4 separate regions of the Homo sapiens genome follow, and all the other regions are linked to region 3. The links come from fine-mapping of genetic effects on gene expression. A gene starts in region 3. Each other region holds a variant in brackets. All regions are shown on one strand. Distances are between the middles of the regions. Region 1 has its middle 5.6 kb from the start of HORMAD1. Region 2 overlaps PRUNE1 (prune exopolyphosphatase 1). Region 3 holds the start of ADAMTSL4-AS2 (ADAMTSL4 antisense RNA 2). Region 4 holds the start of FALEC (focally amplified lncRNA regulator of ECM1).

Region 1 (2,682 bases), 170 kb after region 3:
CAAAGGAGAAAACAGCCACTAGATATGAAAAGATTTGCCCAAAGTCATTCAACTAGGAGAGAAATGAAGACTAGAACCTTGTTATTAGGGTTAAAAATAGTGAAAATCTTGGTCTAATAATTATTTTGAATTATAATTAAGTCACTGTTTTGTGTGTTTTTTTTTGTTGTTGTTGTTGTTGTTGTTTTTTGAGACGGAGTCTCACTCTTTTGCCCAAGCTGGAGTGCAGTGGCATAATCTTGGCTCACTGCAACCTCCACCTCCTGGGTTCAAGGGATTCTCCTGCCTCAGCCTCCCCAGTAGCTGGGATCACAGGCACGCACCACCACATCCAACTAATTTTTGTATTTTTAGTAGAGATGGGGTTTCACCATGTTGGCCAGACTGGTCTTGAACTCCTGACCTCAGGTGATTTGCCCACCTTGGACTCCCAAAATGCTGGGATTACAGGCATGAGCCACTGTGCCCAGCCACTTTTTTTTCTTTAGAGGCAAGGTCTCTTTCAGTCTCCCAGGCTGGAGTGCAGTGATGCAATCATACCTCACTGCAGCCTCAAACTCCTGGCTCAAGCAATCCTCCCTCCTCAGCCTCTGTAACAACTAGGACCGCAGGTGTGTGCCACAACTCTCGGCTACTTTTTAATTTTTTTGTAGAGTCAGGGTCTTGCTATGTTGTGTAGACTGATCTTGAACTACTGGCCTCAAGTAATACTCCTGCCTTAGCCTCCCAAAGTGTTTCAGGCATGAACTACTATGCCAGGCCTATTTTCATTTTTTTTCATTTTTTTTGAGACAGAGTCTTGCTCTGTCACCCAGACTGGAATGCAGTGGCGTGATCTCGACTCACTGCAACCTCCCCTTCCTGGGTTCAAGCAATTCTCCTGCCTCAGCCTCTGAAGTAACTGGGGTTACAGGCGTCCACCACCACGCCAGGCTAATTTTTGTATTTTTAGTAAAGGTGGCATTTTGCCATGTTGGCCAGGCTAGCCTCGAACTCCTGACCTCAGGTGATCGGCTTGCCTTGGCCTCCCAAAGTGCTGGGATTACAGGCATGAGCCACCACGCCCGGCCCCCTTTATTACATGTTCTGATTTATAGTCTTTCTGGTAACTTAGAGTATGCATACTTGAAGCATCATCAAGATTCTCATCTAGAAGAGAAGAGTCAAAAAATAATAATTTGATTCAAAGAAATAGTAAGTCTTATGCCTGTAATCCCAGTACTTTGGGAGACCAAAGTGGGAGGATCACTTGAGGCCAAGAGTTGGAGACCAGCCTGGGCAACATAATGAGACTCCCATCTCTACACACACACACACACACACACACACACACACACACACACACACACACAAATAAGCCAGAAATGGTGGCTTGCACCTCTAGTCCCAGCTACTGGAGGGGTGGGGAAGGTGTGTGAGGTGAGAAAATAGCTTAAGTTCAGGAGTTCAAGGCTGCAGTGAGCAGTGATGGCATCACTGCACTCCAGCCTGAGTGACAGAGTGAGACCCTGTCT[C/CA]AAAAAAAAAAAAAAAAAGATAAGAAAGGAAAAAAGAAAAGAGAAAGGAAATACTAAGTATCTGTCACATTTATGTTATATGTTTTAATGGCATTGTCTCATGGATGCCTAGTTCTGGAATATTTAAATCTTCTTGTTTCTTTTTTTAATATAATTTTTCAAATTTTTTGGCTAATCTTCTCTGTATCATTCAAATTTGAGTATATGTGCTGCCAAAGCAAGCACCGTTTCTTTACTTTTATTATACAGTTTAAAATTCTGTCAACTTTTACTCTGTGATGGCTCCCAGATTTGCTTTATTTTTTATTTTTTTGCTGTTTTCAGAAATGATGTATTTAGTTTAGGGCTTTATCACCACACATATAGACTACTAGAATATCTTTTAGATTGTCTCTTTTTTTTTCTTGAGACAGAGTTTCGTTCTTGTTGCCCAGGCTGGAGTGCAATGGCATGATCTCGGCTCACTGCAACCTCCACCTCCTGAGTTCAAGCAATTCTCCTGTCTCAGCCTCTCAAGTAGCTGGGATTACAGGCACCCACCACCATGCCCAGCTAATTTTTGTATTTTTAGTAGAGGCGGGGTTTCACTGTGTTGGCCAGGCTGGTCTCCAACTCCTGACCTCAAGTGATCTGCCTGCCTCGGCCTCCCAAAGTGCTGGGATTACAGGCGTAAGCCACCACGCCCGGCCTAGGTTGTCTCATTTTAAAATTTTATTTATTTTATTATTTGCCAATTTATTTATTTTGAAACAAGGTCACCCAGGCTGGAGTGCAATGGCGCTATCATGGCTCACTGCAGCCTCAATCTCCTGGGCTCAAGTGATCCTCCCACCTCAGCCTTTCCCCTGGTAGCTGGGACTATAGGCACATACCACCACACCTGGCTAACTTTTTTATTTTTTGTAGAGATGGAGATCTTTTTATGTGCTCATAACAAGAGGCAGGAGGATCACTTGCGCCCAGGAGTTTGAGACCAGCCTCTTGAACTTCTGGCTCAAGCGATCCTCCCACCTCAGCCTCCCACAGTGCTGGGATTACAGGTGTGAGCCACTGCACCTGGCTTTTAAAAAAATTTTCTTCAAGTCATCTTGCATACTACTGTCTAGAAATTGTTCCAGAATAAATTCTAAATGTTTTTGTTTTAAATTTATATTTTTAGATAATTTTT
Region 2 (2,682 bases), 470 kb after region 3:
GAGTGGAATGGCATGATCTCAGCTCACTGCAACCTCTGCCTCCCGGGTTCAAGTAATTCTCCTGCCTCAGCCTCCCTAGTAGCTGGGATTACTGGTGCGTGCCGGCATGCCCAGCTAATTTTTTGTTTTGTTTTGTTTTGTTTTTGTTTTTTGAGACGGAGTTTCGCTCTTGTCCCCCAGGCTGGAGTGCAATGGCGCAATCTCAGCTCACTGCAACTTCCGCCTCCCTGGTTCAAGCGATTCTCCTGCCTCAGCCTCCTGAGTAGCTGGGATTACAGGCATATGCCCCCATGCCCGGCTAATTTTTGTATTTTTACCAGAGACAGGGTTTCACCATGTTGGCTAGGCTGGTCTCGAACTCCTGACCTCAAGTGATCACCTGCCTCGGCCTCCCAAAGTGCTAGGATTATAGGCGTAAGCGACCGTGCCCGGCCCAAGGATGTTTTATTGATGATGATGAGAAAGTCCTTCATCCCTCTCCGTTTCTTCCCTTTCAGGCCTTTCTGCAGAGGTCTAACCTCCTTGCAGATCTCCATGCTTTCTGCCAGGCTCACAGCTATGATGTCCTGGTTGCCATGACTATCTTTTTCAACACTCACAATGAGCCAGTGCGGCAGTTGGCTATTTTCTGTCCCCATGTGGCACTCCAAACAACGGTGAGTCTGTGTCCCTTCTCCAACCTAAGAGCCTTACAGAGTCTGCCTGTATGTACCTCTGTGCTCTACAGCTGTCCTATAAGGACCTCTCTTAGGTTCTTATATTAATGTACTTACATGAGGTCCCTTGACCTGTTTCTGGACCTGTTTCCTCCCCTTTCTGCTTTTTCCCATTCTCTCTCTATATGAATATCCTTTTTTTTTTTTTAATGAACATCCTTAATCATAGCATTGTTGAGAAAGGGGGAATTCCAAAGAGAACTAGAGATTCAATTCCTACTTTGAAAGAACGAAATCTAGTTAGAAGGAAATGTTATAAATCCGGAGTTAAAATTCCCTTCTTGAGCTAGGGACAGTGGCACGTGCCTGTAGTCCCAGCAACTCGGGAGGCTGATGCAGAAGGATTGCTTAAGCTGGAAAGTTTTTTTTTTTTTTTTTTTTTTGAGACAGTCTTGTGCTGTTGCCCAGGCTGGGGTGCAGTGGCACAATCTCGGCTCACTGCAAGCTCTGCCTCCTGGGTTAACGCCATTGTCCTGCCTCAGCCTCCCGAGTAGCTGGGACTACAGGCGCCCGCCACCACGCCCGGCTAATTTTTTGTATTTTTAGTAGAGACGGGGTTTCACCGTGTTAGCCAGGATAGTCTCGATCTCCTGACCTCGTGATCCGCCCGCCTTGGCCTCCCAAAGTGCTGGGATTACAGGCGTGAGCCACCG[C/T]GCCCAGCCGAGCTGGAAAGTTTGAGTCCAGCCTGGGCAAAGATAGCAAGACCTCATCTCTGTTGGGGAAAAAAAAAAACAAAAACTCTATTCTTGGTTTAATCATTAATTCCTCACCCCTGGAATTATGCTGTTGCCTTGAAAATTAGAAATACGAGAGACCTTTTCTGCTACTTACTATGCAGGGATTAATTATTCTGTATAGTGCAAACTCTGTAAAGAAGTGATCTAGATCCAGATTTGGCTATCTTTCCTACTTCCTCCCCCTTCTGTTCCTCTGCTGGTTACTGATTAGCCTAGGGAAGAATTTAAAAGTGGGCTTAAGGCTGGGTGCGGTGGCTCACACCTGTAATCCCAGCACTTTGGGAAGCTGAGGCGGGCAGATCACGAGAGCAAGAGATCAAGACCATCCTGGCCAACATGGTGAAACCCCATCTCTTTTAAAAATACGGAAATTAGCTGGGCGTGGTGGTGCGTGCCTATAGTCCCAGCTACTCAGGAGGCTGAGGCAGGAGAATCTCTTGAACCTCGGCAAGCAGAGGTTGCAGTGAGCCGAGATTGCGCCACTGTACTCCATCCTGCCAACAGAGCAAGACTCCGTCTCCAAAAAAAAAAAAAAAAAAGGTGGGCTTAAGGCAGTTCAGGGATTCTGAGGGTTGCCTAGGCTCTGTGAGGACTGCTAAAGACAGAATACAGCCAGATAATCCTTTGCTCTCATAGAAGGTATGTCTGTCCTTTCCCGCCCCCCTTTGCCTTTGCCTTCTCCCCAGGAAGCAAATCTGATTTCATTCAGTGTAAGGTAGTTCGTCATTATGAAAAGAACTGCAGTTTTGTCTGTTTGTTTGTTTTTTAAGATGGAGTCTCACTCTGTCGCCCAGGCTTGAGTACAGTGGTGTGATCTTGGCTCACTGCAACCGCCACCTCCCAGGTTCAGTCAGTTCTCCCACCTCAGCCTGTAGCTGGGACTACAGGCGCCTGCCACCATGCCTGACTAATTTTTGTATTTTTAGTAGAGATGGGGTTTCACCATGTTAGCCAGGCAGGTCTCGAACTCCTGACCTCAAGTGATCCACCTGCCTTGGCCTTCCGAAGTGCTGGAATTACAAGCCTGAGCCACTGCACCTGGCCAAGAACTGCAGTTTTTAAAGTCAGGTAGATGTGCTTTTCTGTTCTAGGTTTGCCTCTTACTCACTCTTTGAGCTAAGGCAAGTCAGTTGACTTCTGCATCTGGAAATGGCATAATAGTACCTACTGCTAATTCTGCTATGATCATTAAACGTAATATCATGTGTAAAGCACACTCCTGGAGCAGA
Region 3 (2,682 bases):
GATGATTCTACCTGTCGCCTTGTTTCGGGGAACCTCACTGACCGAGGGGGCCCCCTGGGCTATCAGAAGATCTTGTGGATTCCAGCGGGAGCCTTGCGGCTCCAGATTGCCCAGCTCCGGCCTAGCTCCAACTACCTGGGTGAGCACCCAGCTGCCTCCCCTTCCACTTCCGTCTCTGTTCGGCCCTCCATACCCCTACTCAGAGCAGTGAGCAAGCCAAACAGGGGGAAGTCCAGGGCCTAGCCCCTCCCCTCGTGGAAGGAGTGAGGAAGCTGAGAGGGCTTGGGGGGATCTTAGGTTCTGGTGGGAGCTTCTATAGGCTAAGGACACGGTGTGGGAGGAGGAAGGTATTATCACCCTGGAATTTCCCGATCTCTCACCTCTGACCCGCAGCACTTCGTGGCCCTGGGGGCCGGTCCATCATCAATGGGAACTGGGCTGTGGATCCCCCTGGGTCCTACAGGGCCGGCGGGACCGTCTTTCGATATAACCGTCCTCCCAGGGAGGAGGGCAAAGGGGAGAGTCTGTCGGCTGAAGGCCCCACCACCCAGCCTGTGGATGTCTATGTGAGCCTGGGGCCAGGGGCAGCTGAATGCTGGGGAGGGAGGCTGTTCCCTCTGGGCAGAGCTGTGGTTGTCAAGATGGGAGAGAGAGCTGGTGGCATCCTCTTCTGGCCACCCCCACATATTCATTATCTTCTCTTCTCCCCAGATGATCTTTCAGGAGGAAAACCCAGGCGTTTTTTATCAGTATGTCATCTCTTCACCTCCTCCAATCCTTGAGAACCCCACCCCAGAGCCCCCTGTCCCCCAGCTTCAGCCGGGTAAGACTCTGACCCCTGCACTTGGAAGGAGGAGGGAGAGGCTGCAGGGCTGGCTCGGGGCAGTGGGGTGGCATCTGATTCGCCTGCTCCCCTGCACAGAGATTCTGAGGGTGGAGCCCCCACTTGCTCCGGCACCCCGCCCAGCCCGGACCCCAGGCACCCTCCAGCGTCAGGTGCGGATCCCCCAGATGCCCGCCCCGCCCCATCCCAGGACACCCCTGGGGTCTCCAGCTGCGTACTGGAAACGAGTGGGACACTCTGCATGCTCAGCGTCCTGCGGGAAAGGTGAGACATCACAGTGCGTTCCCCGCATCTCGGTCCAAACCCCCCAACTGACACTCCCGCATCCTGGATTGTGGGGCCACGCCCGACCCTGCGTCTGGGACACCACTGAGCTTGGGCTCTAGCCTCCTGCCTCCCTGGCTGCCTTCTCACCCACTCAGGTGTCTGGCGCCCCATTTTCCTCTGCATCTCCCGTGAGTCGGGAGAGGAACTGGATGAACGCAGCTGTGCCGCGGGTGCCAGGCCCCCAGCCTCCCCTGAACCCTGCCACGGCACCCCATGCCCCCCATAGTGAGTATGGGGGAGCCCACGGGGAGGGTTAGGGTACTGGAAACACAGCAGTTGCCCCCAGAATCTTACCTGAACTCTGCACTCAACGCAACATCTCCTGGCTGCAGAGAGACAACATTAGATTAGAAAGGCAGACATTCGGTAGGCAGCAAGAAAGCCATGGCAGGCTGAGCCCCCCAGGAACCCAGACTCCAAACGCCAAACGTGCCCACTCTCCTCTGAGGCCCCCACGTCCAGTGTGTCTTCCATCTCTGCTGCCACGGCAGCCCCACACATCTCATCTATGTCTCCGCCTCTTCCCTGCCCTGCTGGTGCCTGCAGCTGGGAGGCTGGCGAGTGGACATCCTGCAGCCGCTCCTGTGGCCCCGGCACCCAGCACCGCCAGCTGCAGTGCCGGCAGGAATTTGGGGGGGGTGGCTCCTCGGTGCCCCCGGAGCGCTGTGGACATCTCCCCCGGCCCAACATCACCCAGTCTTGCCAGCTGCGCCTCTGTGGCCATTGGGAAGTTGGCTCTCCTTGGAGCCAGGTGAGTTTGCCCAGGCAAGGAGGTGCTGGGGAGGGGAATGGGCACAGGTGAACAACAGCAGTGGTTTTTCAACTTCTTTTTCATCAGCAGAAACTATTTACAAACAGGGTTTCATATGGACCCCCAATATAGAAGTCAGATAAGGGACTGAACCAGGGACTGGGGGCCCAGGGCCCTAGGGCTCAGCCTCCTCCTCAGCCCACGAAGCCATGTGACTGCTGGGCTGGGGATCGAAGGCAGAGCCTGGTTCTGAAGCCTAGAGCTGGAAGCTGGCTGAGAAGGTCTGGGAAGCCCAGCTCCCTGGATTCCCCTCGCCCCCTCAGTGCTCCGTGCGGTGCGGCCGGGGCCAGAGAAGCCGGCAGGTTCGCTGTGTTGGGAACAATGGTGATGAAGTGAGCGAGCAGGAGTGTGCGTCAGGCCCCCCGCAGCCCCCCAGCAGAGAGGCCTGTGACATGGGGCCCTGTACTACTGCCTGGTTCCACAGCGACTGGAGCTCCAAGGTGAGCCCGGAACCCCCAGCCATATCCTGCATCCTGGGTAACCACGCCCAGGACACCTCAGCCTTTCCAGCATAGCTCAATAAACTTGTATTGATCAAGCGCCTGCTATATGCCTGACCCTGGGAACTCAGAGATAAGTGAGAACAACTTCCATGAGGGGCCCGGCTAGGATTCCTCGTCCGGGCCTGGTACCCGGGGACATTCCCAACCACCCAGGATTCGGACCCAGGATGCGTCCCTCCCTGCCCCCCTACTGTCCC
Region 4 (2,682 bases), 41 kb before region 3:
TCGGGAGGCTGAGGCACGAGAATCACTTGAACCTGGGAGGTGGAGGTTGCAGTGAGCCAGTATCGCACCACTGCACTCAGCCTGGCCGACACAGCGAGACTGTGCCTCAAAAATAAAATAAAATAAAATAATGTCTAGTCGGAGAGCCGGGGAGGTGGCGCGCGCCTGTAATCCCAGCCACCCAAAGAGCTATGGTCTCGGCACTGCACTTCAACCTGCGAGACCCAGTCTCAAAAAGAAAAAAAAAAGTTTAGTCGGCAGCCAGCAAGGCGGGACGCTGGGAGGCCAGTTCAAAGAGTGTCGTCCCAAGTGCCGGAGGGACGGAGCTGTAGCCCCCAACCTGAGCTGGACCCGAGGGTGGCGGTGACTAGGACTCTCAAGCCCTACAAAGCTGCTCCCAGGAACCCGAGGCCTCAAGGCTGGATCTGAAAGAATCGGAATGAAGACTCGGAATGAAGAGTCCCAGGGGAACAAGTCCTGTGTGACTCCGCCGCCAGGACGACCTTCCAGAAAGCAGACTTCTCCGCTCCAGTTCTAGCGGAGACGGAGAGAGTGAACCAAGAACCATCATCCTGCGCCAGCCAGGGGCAAGCGGAGCCTCAGTTGCTCCCAAACCCACGCCCGCCTCTCCTTCCTCTCCTCCTCCACAGGCTTTCATTTATTTACTTAAGTATTTTTAGCCCAGTAGCAGTTTCCAGTCCAGCGGCTCCTCAGATCTTTCGCCGGCTGTCCGCCCCACCTGTCCGTCAGCACGCGAGCCAATGAGCGGGCGAGGGCAGCGCTGTGCCCCGCCCCTGAGCCGGCAGCCCAGTCTCGGGAGCCCGGGGCCGCCTGGGCCTCCTGCCCGCCGCGCTCGAGTCTGGAGCTCGAGAGTGACACTGCGCATGTGCGGGCGTCCTGCGCATCTCCTACGGCCTCCAGGACAGAGGAACCGGGGGAGGCAGGGGGAAAAGGCCGGCCCAGCAATTCCCCTACCCCCCGGTCCCACGTGTACCCTCCTGGCCTGGGTCGCCCCAGCCCACGGGGAGCGGGCGGAGTCCTGGCCCACGAAGCCTTGTCACCTGGCGGGCGAATCCGCAAGCGGAGACTTGTCTTTAAAGGGCTTTGGGCCGGGCGCGGTGGCTCATGCCTGGAATCCCAGCACTTTGGGAGGCCGAGGCGGTGGATCACGAGGTCAGGAGTTCAAGACCAGCCTGGCCAAGAAGGTGAAACCCCGTCTGTACTAAAAATACAAAAAAAAAAAAAAATTAGCAGGGCGTGGTGGCGGGCGCCTATAATCCCAGCTACTCGGGAGGCTGAGGCAGAGAATTGCTTGAACCCGGGAGGCGGAGGCTGCAGTAAGATCGCGCCACCGCACTCCAGCCTGGGCGAGAGAGGAGACTCTGTCTCAAAAAAAAAAA[G/T]GGAGCGGGGGGGCTTTGGTCTGTGCAGGAGCTTCCCGGAGATGCTTTAGAGCTGCGTTTGCAAAGTGCAGCGCCAAATGCTGCAGAGAGGTGGGAGTCAGAGGAGAGGAGGACTGCGGTCCCAAACCCTAGCAGTTTAGTCTGTCGGGGAGGAGAGGAAGGGAACCCGGAGAGCACTTGTAAGCTACAGTGCTGAATATGAGGAGGTACTGAATTGAGCATCAAATGCTGAGAGTTAAAGAATTCTCCCTAGGGACCAGCCAGCTATTATCTGGAAGCAGTGAGTTTGGATAGAGCCTGGAAGCACGGGTAGCATTGCTGTTAGCAATAAAAGGTGAACGTGTTAACATTCACTGCAATTCGTTGTATACACTATTAAAATATAACTTGCTCAATTCAGGGGCGGTGAGTAAAGTAAAGGAGTCAGAGCTCCTAATTATTGGAGAGGCCAGGGAAAGCTTCACAGAATTCAAGCTTGAGTAGGGTTTTGTTGAAAGGGAAGGATATACAAAGCATTGAATGTATGCAAAGTTCAGCTAAAGTAAACAGTCCTTTTTGTGTTAGGCAGAGTGCTAAAAGTACTCTGGCTATAACGAAGACTACAACACCACCTTCAGGGACTTTAGCGTCTGTGGAGACTTGAACATCTAATGTTAGAAATATTCTCAGAATTCTGAGACAGCCACCTAGCCTGGCCTTCAGGGAGATCTTCCAGGAAGAGGAAATAACACAGAAAGTGTGGTATATTTAAATATACCTAGCCAGGCGCGGTGGCTCACACCTGTAATCCCAGCACTTTGGGAGGTCGAGGCCAGTGGATCAACCGAGGTCAGGAGTTCGAGACCAGCCTGACCAACATGGTGAAAGCCGTCCCTACTAAAAATACAAAATTAGCCAGGCATGATGGCGCATGCCTCTAATCCCAGCTACTTGGGAGGCTGAGGCAGAAGAATTGCTTGAACCCAGGAGGCAGAGGTTGTAGTGAGCCAAGATTGTGCCATTGCACTCCAGCCTGGGTGACAGAGCCAGACTCCGTCTCAAAAAAAAAAAAAAAAAAAAGGTTGAGGGCATGGTGAGGGAGGGGACTTTTTTTAAAAGCTCTTCAGGAGATAGGGTTGAGAGAACCTGTTTGCTGGTGTCTAGGGTGACTACCAAGTTTGAGGCTGTGGTAACTAAGGTAAGTGTTACAGACTGAATGTTTGTGTACCCCCAAATGCATTTGTTGAAATCCTAGCCCCCAGTGTGATGGTATTAGGAGGTGGGGCCTTTGGGAGGTAATTAG

Evidence for each region. PIP is the estimated chance that this variant, and not a neighbour inherited with it, causes the effect.
Region 1: its variant is fine-mapped to the expression of ADAMTSL4-AS2 in whole blood (INTERVAL, PIP above 0.99).
Region 2: its variant is fine-mapped to the expression of ADAMTSL4-AS2 in whole blood (INTERVAL, PIP above 0.99).
Region 4: its variant is fine-mapped to the expression of ADAMTSL4-AS2 in pancreas (GTEx, PIP 0.95).

Annotation. Positions count from the first base shown.
Region 1 is chr1:150,725,145-150,727,826 of GRCh38, forward strand. No RefSeq gene overlaps it. Among named protein-coding and RNA genes, the nearest start is that of HORMAD1, 5.6 kb to the left of the region's middle. The variant C/CA (reference allele first, on the strand shown) is at 1,515.
Region 2 is chr1:151,028,289-151,030,970 of GRCh38, forward strand. PRUNE1 (prune exopolyphosphatase 1) reads left to right here. Exons shown (of 8, transcript NM_021222.3): 7 at 498-656. Among named protein-coding and RNA genes, the nearest start is that of BNIPL, 7.0 kb to the right of the region's middle. The variant C/T (reference allele first, on the strand shown) is at 1,370.
Region 3 is chr1:150,556,228-150,558,909 of GRCh38, forward strand. It overlaps ADAMTSL4-AS2 (ADAMTSL4 antisense RNA 2), which reads right to left and starts at 1,497. Exons shown (of 6, transcript NR_187269.1): 1 at 1,466-1,497; 2 at 381-457. It overlaps ADAMTSL4 (ADAMTS like 4), which reads left to right. Exons shown (of 19, transcript NM_019032.6): 9 at 1-139; 10 at 394-566; 11 at 712-823; 12 at 923-1,108; 13 at 1,267-1,396; 14 at 1,718-1,922; 15 at 2,246-2,422.
Region 4 is chr1:150,514,858-150,517,539 of GRCh38, forward strand. FALEC (focally amplified lncRNA regulator of ECM1) reads left to right here and starts at 895. Exons shown (of 6, transcript NR_186305.1): 1 at 895-1,205. RefSeq lists enhancers at 340-409, 480-629 and a silencer at 720-1,089. The variant G/T (reference allele first, on the strand shown) is at 1,401.